Linked DNA regions of Homo sapiens. The protein of the gene in region 2 purifies or fractionates together with the protein of the main gene of each other region. This does not show direct contact. Each region holds a gene or a part of one and is shown on either strand. Other genes may lie near its edges.

Region 1 (3,648 bases), on a different chromosome or scaffold from region 2:
TATGAAAATATTTTTATGACTGAAAGGTACTCACACTAAAAATGTAAAGAAAATAAGCAGTATACATGATGATATGGACGGTATGGTTTGAAATCTGTAAACCAAAGGCACAGAAGGAAGGAAAGACATTAAAAATGTGAAAAGATGAATTTGGGTGATTCTCCTGTTTCCATTTCTGCATGAATTGGGTAGGTCTCTGCAATGAGGACATGAAGATGGATTTGGGTGATGCTCCTGTCTCCATTTCTGCGTGAACTGTATAGGTCTCTGCAATGAGGACATGTTATGGGCTCTGGGCACTGTAATCCCAGTCTAACTGCTTCTCAGCTACGGGGCCTCACACAAGTCACTTAGTCTGTGGTGTCTTTTTTTTTTTTTGAGACAGAGTCTCACTCTGTTGCCCAGGCTGGAGTGCAGTGGCACGATCTCGGCTCACTGCAAGATCCGCCTCCCGGGTTCACGCCATTCTCCTGCCTTAGCCTCCCGAGTAGCTGGGACTACAGGCGGCCGCCATCACACCCGGCTAAGTTTTTGTATTTTTAGTAGAGACGGGGTTTCACTGTGTTAGCCAGGATGGTCTCGATCGCCTGACCTCGTGATCCACCCACCTCGGCCTCCCAAAGTGCTGGAATTACAGGCGTGAGCCACCACGCCCGGCCTGTGGTATCCTTGCTTTTAAAATGGGGTAATGTTTGACCCGCTGCACAAGACTGCTGTGAAAGTGAAGTGAAATCACACATTTAAACTATTTAGCTTAGTGATGTACAAAGTTAAGTGCTTAATAAACAGTAACTAATACTATTAGTATATTACTATTAGTCAAGTCATTATACAATTAAATTCACTTGAAACGGGAGTATATTTCTTACCATCTACAGAACCAAACTCCCTTTCATGTGCACGAGTGAGAATCTCTTTGTACAGTGTTTCTGCTTGCTTGAACTTTCCTTGTTTCAAATAGCAGGATGCCTTAAAATAAAATAAAATAAAATATTTCATATCTTTCAGATGTAAATAAAGCATACATTTTAATCTCCAGTTAAATGAGAAAGTGTTTGGACTTGGGACGAAAGCACTCCTGGCCCCCTCCCTAGTGCTGTGCAGTCAACACACCAGGTTATTTTTCGTCTTAGCCACGTTGGGGTCATCAGGTCCCAGTTTTGTCTGGTAGATCTCGAGGGCTCTTTGATAATAATATTCTACTTCTTCATACTTGCCCTGGTTCTGGCACAGTAAGGCCAAGTTATTTAACTGCTTGGCAACATCGGGGTGATCCTTCCCCAAAACCTGAAAATAAAAAACAGCATATTAGAGACACTTGTTCTGCTTCCATCCAATCCATTCTCCACCCTACTGTCACATCAGGATCTTCCTCAACATAAGCACGACTGTGCTACACTTTCAGATTTAAATCCTTAACTGGCTCGCTACACCACGTAGTAATAAAATAACCAGAATTTCTCAAATTCTTATTCATGAGGGGAGGGAGGGAACTGTGCTCATCTTCTTTAGCTGTGTTAATTACTGTAGTAATCCTTCATGGTAGTTATATTTTTGTACATTGGTTGTACTATGTACAAATGTACACATTAGGCACATTTTGAAGATAAGGAAATGGGCTTTGTAAAGGCTATGTGAGTTTTACTGCCAGCTTCTGAAGAGCCCACAGCTGTCCCAGTTGCCCAGGATGCTCTTCTCCTAGCCCTCCCTACTAGCTACGACTTATCCTTCAGGGTTCTCCTCAGTTCCCCTCAAAGGAGACTTCCCTATACCACCCCACCTCACCTAGTGAACTCACAGGCACATCACCTGGTTGTTCTTTATAAGAATCACTTCTCTAAACTACCTTGAATATTTTTTATTACAATGTAAGCCCCAAGAGTATAAATTCTTTGTCTCTCTTCTTCACCAATGTAATCTCCGCATCGAAAAAGGGGTCTGGCACAGAGATAGATGAATGAACACTAACCTCCTCCCTCAGTACCTTGAACAAGTGATGAGTTCTCTCCGCTTTGTGCCTTTACACATGTGGTCCTCAGGGAGGTAAGCTGCCTTTCTACTCCCTTCTGCATTCCCTACCTCCCCCTGCCTAGGACACTTTTAACTCAATTATTCAAGATGCAGTTCCAACACCGACCTTCCCTGAGAAACCATCCCCAACACCCCCTGGCTCTGGCCCGCAGAAGCCCACACTTCATATCCTCCCAGAGCTCTCTATTCTAGATGCTGATGTGCCCTCTGCGGTCCTCAGTCTGTCCAGTGGACTGTGTCCTAGTGGGAGGAACTACATGTCTGATCTGTAAATCACCAACTCTAAGCAGGGGGCTCTAAATGAATGAAAGGGTAAATATATGAATGAATTTGGCAGGTCATCTTATATGGTTCCTAATCCTTAATTTGATACTTTTGTGCTCTCCCTGACTTTAACTCCAGCCCACCCCAAATTCAACCATTCTATTTCAGAAATATCATGCAGATTGACAGCATGATAAAATATTACCTGTATAATTTGATAAGGAGCCCCTTTTTATTTTCTCTCCCCCAATTCCTTGCCATGTGGCTCAAAATTAACTGATAAGAATCACTGATAAATAATCACAAAAAATACCAGGTTAAAATACCATTTGTGCGGCTGGGTGCAGTGGCTCATGCCTGTAATCCTAGCACTGTGGGAGGCTAAGGCAGATGGATCACCTAAGGTCAGGAGTTCTTGGCCAGCCTGGCCAACATGGTGAAACCCCATCTCTACTAAAAAATACAAAAATTAGCCGGGTGTTGTGGCACATGCCTGTAATCCCAGCTACCCAGGAGGCTGAGGCAAGAGAATTCCTGGAATCCAGGAGGCGAAGGCTGCAGTGAGCCGAGATCGTGCCACTGCACTCCAGCCTGGGCGACACAGCAAGACTCCGTTTCAGAAAAAAAAAAACACAATTTGTGGTCACTCATCGGATAGACCCAATACCCGAATCTTCATAACATCTAAAGAGATTGTCATACACAGCACTGCTGAAATGAACAAGTTGTTATATTTTTTAATACCTAATTACCATGAACTGTAGCAGCTGGTATTAAATATATATGACATTGACTTAATCTATAGCTCTGAGTTAATCTTTAGTTATAATAATAATTATTTCATTTTTCAGCTTCATAAAGCATATTTGGTGAATTTATCTTTAATCATGTTTTTCTTATTGACAAGCACATGTTCCACTGTCAAATGCAATGCTCCCAGGCTTTCCATCTCTAGTCCTCAGACATGTCTTCTTCAATCAGAGTCACTTCTAGGCCATATCAGGCTTGGACAGCATCAGACTCAGGACTGCACCTTTCTAAATGCACACGCCTCATAACTGGACCTTCTTTTCTTTTTTTTTTCTTTAGAGACGAGGTCTCACTATGTTACCCAGGCTGGTCTTAAACTTCCTAGGCTCAAGTGATCCTCCCACCTTGGCCTCCCAAAGTGCTGGGATTACAAGCATGAGCCACTGCACCCAGCCTGTAATTGAGTCTTAAACACTGATTTGTATGGGCCAATCTGGCTTTGTTTTGTGGGCTATTCTCTAATTAAATGAGTTGTTTTCAGCTAATAGTCAGTTAAAAACACATCACAGTGGTTATTTCTCAAAACCTAAAACCGAAAAATTT
Region 2 (3,648 bases):
GATGAAAAAGCTGAGACAGAGAGGTCAGGGGGCTTGCCCTGAGTCCCTGAGGGAGTCAGGGACCAAGCTGGTGACTGCCCAAGTCTCTGGGTCCTCATTCAGGCGGCTGAGGGGGAGGGGTGGTAGGAGCGAGCTCTGCCACACCAAGAACAAGGGCGCCTTTGGCTGGTCTTGTGGTGGGCAGAGCCGTGGACGCTCAGGCCAAGAGGCCAAGCATTGTGAGGAGACAGCTGTGCTGGGAGCCAAGCCTGTTGGGGATGCAGCCTCAGGTTCAAAAGGGACATTGTTCATCCCCTATCCTGCGCCTGGGCACTACCGGGCTGGGTCTGGTCCTCCCAGAGGCCCACAAGTCACGGGTCCCAGGGCCTGGTCCCTGGAGCAGCCCCAGGCTCACCCAGAGGTCAGGCTGAGGATCACCGATCTGCTGGCCACACAACCACTCACCCAGACAACACTGCTGCCACTCAAGGCTTGTGGCCGCGGCACCTCGTCCATGTTGGTGGTGTTGGCGCTGACCGTGGACAGCGGGGCCTTAGCTGTCTCCTCTAAGTCCAGCAGGTTCCCAGTGGCGACCACTGTGAGGGATCCGGTCAGGTTGTCAGTGGGAGATCAGCCTCTTCCTTCCTGGCCCCCTCCCTGGGCTGTCCTGGCCCTGACCCTCCCCTCTGATGTGGCCTTGCCCAGGCCTCCCAGCAGAGCCCGGCCCTGGCACCTCCCCACAGCAGATGCGCAGCTGCCCACAGAGTGAGAACCTGACTAATGGCTTAGACTGAAACTTTTGTATTCACAATAGTTAAGTTTTCTTAAGCAACCACACAATACTATGTTAAGTATATAGAAAGATAGACGCATATTTATATATTTGCATAGGGACATATCTAGAAGAAAATGTACTAAAATGAGTTATTTCTTCCCCTTATCTACATTTTCTAATTGATCTGTAATGAACGTGTATTATTTATTTAACAAAACACAAGTGAAAAACCAAGAGGCTCTCCCAGCCCAGGCAGGAGTGGGACCCCCCTGGGTGAAGCGCAACCCCAACACCGCATGGCCAATCCCCCTTCCCCGTCAGGACTCACAGCTCTTCAAGGAGGGGGTGCAGTCTTGGCGGGCCCCCAGGACGTCCCCTCCCTCTTGGCTGGCTTTGTCCCTCTTCTCTTTCTCTGCAGGACCAAGGCACAACATGTTGGAGCCTCAGACCCCAGCACTCTGTCCCCAGCAATCACCGGGCAGGGGTGATTAGCGGTGGCCAACCTCAAGGGGCAGTTTCAGGTTTCCAGCCGGGAGGAAAGAAACCTTTCGGATGTCAGTTAATCCTCACAAGCACCTTTGGGGAGGGAGACGGCTGTTCCCATTTTTCAGATGGGAAAACCGAGACTCTGAGCGGTGAAGGGACCTGCTCACAGTCACAAGCCAGGTGGGTGATGAGGCAGGAAGTCGGTCCAGGTCTGACCCCAGGGCCTTTATGTGTCTCCCCACCTCCCACCACACCCACAATGTAGATGCAAAGTCTCACCTTCCTTGGACACCTGCCAAAACTCAAAGGCGACTTTGAAGGCCTGGGCTACGGTGAGGGTAACAGCCTGTGCCTGAAAACAGGAAGTGGGGATGGGGAGGGGTGCAGTGTCAGCCAGGGCAGAGCAAGTCTGCACTGGAGGGCTGGGGCCTCCAGGCCAGGCCCCCTGGCTCCCTCCCTGCAGCTTCTGCAGCTCCATCCCAGGCTCTGGAATGCCTGCTGGGCAGAGCAGGGTCCTGGCCCTTCCCAGGTCTCCAAAGCAGCCTGGGGTGTCATAAGGCCATAGCCTCGCAGAGGCAGTAGAGTCCCCATCTTTACTATCTCTGGCCCCACCAAAGTTCTCACTCTCACTCTAGGGCCCCTGCCTGCAAAGGCTGTTCTTCTCCAGGTCTTTTCCTTCCCCTTTGGGCTTCCCTGAATTCAATGAACTGTGAGGCTTACTTCCTCCAAGAAACCCTCCCTAATTACCTGTGGACTTAGCCCTTGGAATTGGAGAACAGAAAAGCCAGAATTGGAAGGGCCCAGCCATTGCCCCAAATGAGCCACAGCCAGAGAGGTGAAAGTTAGGTTCCGGTTGGGACCATAACTGGATCCCACAAAGAGAGTAGAAGGCTTGTCAATTTCCTGATAGGAGCAAGATGTCAATGAAGGCCCGGGGACCAAAACCGGTCAGTGCTATAACCCACCTGTAAGGAAGGGCCACACCTCGGCCCTTCACCCCAGGGGAACTCTCCCTCACCCCTCCAAACCCAACTCAGATGTCACCACCTCTCCTGTCACCAGTCCCAGACTCCTCGAGCCCCACCCACCTCCCTCTGGCACTATGCATGTGAAAGTGTCACTGGCTCCCCTGCCTGTGTTTCCCCCAGCTTTGTGCACCCTAAAAGCAAGAATCAATCTGAACACCCCTGCCCTCGGGAGCAGGCCAAAGCCTCCCAGAGGTGGCAACAATGCTGGGTGAATTACATTCACCTGAGGTGCAGGCCTCATTCCACCCAGGACCTATCCCCAGCCCATATTCATCTCAACACCTTCCTCTCTCAGCCATTCCAGTCCAGGGTTAATCAGCTCAGCTTCTGGGAGTGGAAGTCCCAGAGTTCGTAGCTATAGCCGGAAACATCTAGCTTCCTTCTGAAGCCCTGGCTGAGAGAAGAAAGCACCAGCCTCTTTCAAGTCTACAAGTTCAGGCCTCACCAGCCTCAGCCCCGCTCCCTGCCCTCCCCCAGACAACTCAATTTAATTGAGAAATGGACCTGTGGCCACTGCCTTTAAAACTCCTTTTAAAAAAATATTTAAAATTCCTAAACAAACTGACTGATCCGTGCCAATTACACTTCACGAAAGTATAAAACCTCATTTGAATGTCTCCAACATTTACATTTTTGATGGAAGTACAGGCACTTTATGGCAAAACTTAAATATGGTAATTAAGTATGAAACTCTTCGCAGCTGTTTACAATTTAAGCTGTCATATCTGAATCAAGTTTAATAGACCCAGTTACCATTGAGAATTGCCCATGAACTAAAAATATGGGCTAATTACCAGCCCAAGTCAGATCACTATCCACCCAAGCAAGGGCTGGACACCCAATGTGGCAGGGATATGAAAACGCCATTATTTAAGCCTGCTGGAAATCTGGAGACACAAGCTTAGACTGTAGTTGCATAAATCTGATTGTTCACTTGCATACATTCCTACCTTTTTGCCCTGAAGTCCCAAGCTGTAAGTTAAACTGAATACAACCCAAGAGGTGGATGTGTGCAGGTAGCTGCAAGCCCAGGCTGGGCAGGGACTGGGAGTGGGGTGGGCCCTGCTTCCTGGGGTGGCTGCAGGGATCCGAGGACCAGCATTAGGTGGAGGGACTGCTCAGGCCTGCCCAGGCGGGATGCCCACCCCTCCTGACTGCCTCTGGCCTTCGGGTCTGCCTTATTATCCTGAGTGGATGCTACCTTGCCCAGTTTTTCACATTCCTTGTTCCCAGGAACCAGGCTGCTCATGGCTCAAAAGGGGCCAGAAACTCAAACCAAGACAGCCACATGCCCCCCAGCAGCCCTGCTGCCCCAGAAGCAAAAACCTTGCACAAGGATCACTCCAAGATGCCAATGGTCATGGGGGAGGGAGCAGCCTG

Evidence for each region. The genes of interacting proteins can lie anywhere in the genome.
Region 1: the proteins of LDLRAP1 (region 2) and KLC1 purify together in Homo sapiens (affinity purification with western blotting, with the first as the bait; one study listed by BioGRID). This does not show direct contact.

The regions. Positions count from the first base shown.
Region 1 is NC_000014.9:103,670,653-103,674,300, reverse strand, and holds part of KLC1 (kinesin light chain 1), read right to left. Parts: intron 1,288-3,648; coding exon 1,114-1,287; intron 970-1,113; coding exon 870-969; intron 1-869. UniProt on the Homo sapiens protein: Kinesin is a microtubule-associated force-producing protein that may play a role in organelle transport. The light chain may function in coupling of cargo to the heavy chain or in the modulation of its ATPase activity.
Region 2 is NC_000001.11:25,560,588-25,564,235, reverse strand, and holds part of LDLRAP1 (low density lipoprotein receptor adapter protein 1), read right to left. Parts: intron 1,593-3,648; coding exon 1,520-1,592; intron 1,167-1,519; coding exon 1,083-1,166; intron 576-1,082; coding exon 445-575; intron 1-444. UniProt on the Homo sapiens protein: Adapter protein (clathrin-associated sorting protein (CLASP)) required for efficient endocytosis of the LDL receptor (LDLR) in polarized cells such as hepatocytes and lymphocytes, but not in non-polarized cells (fibroblasts).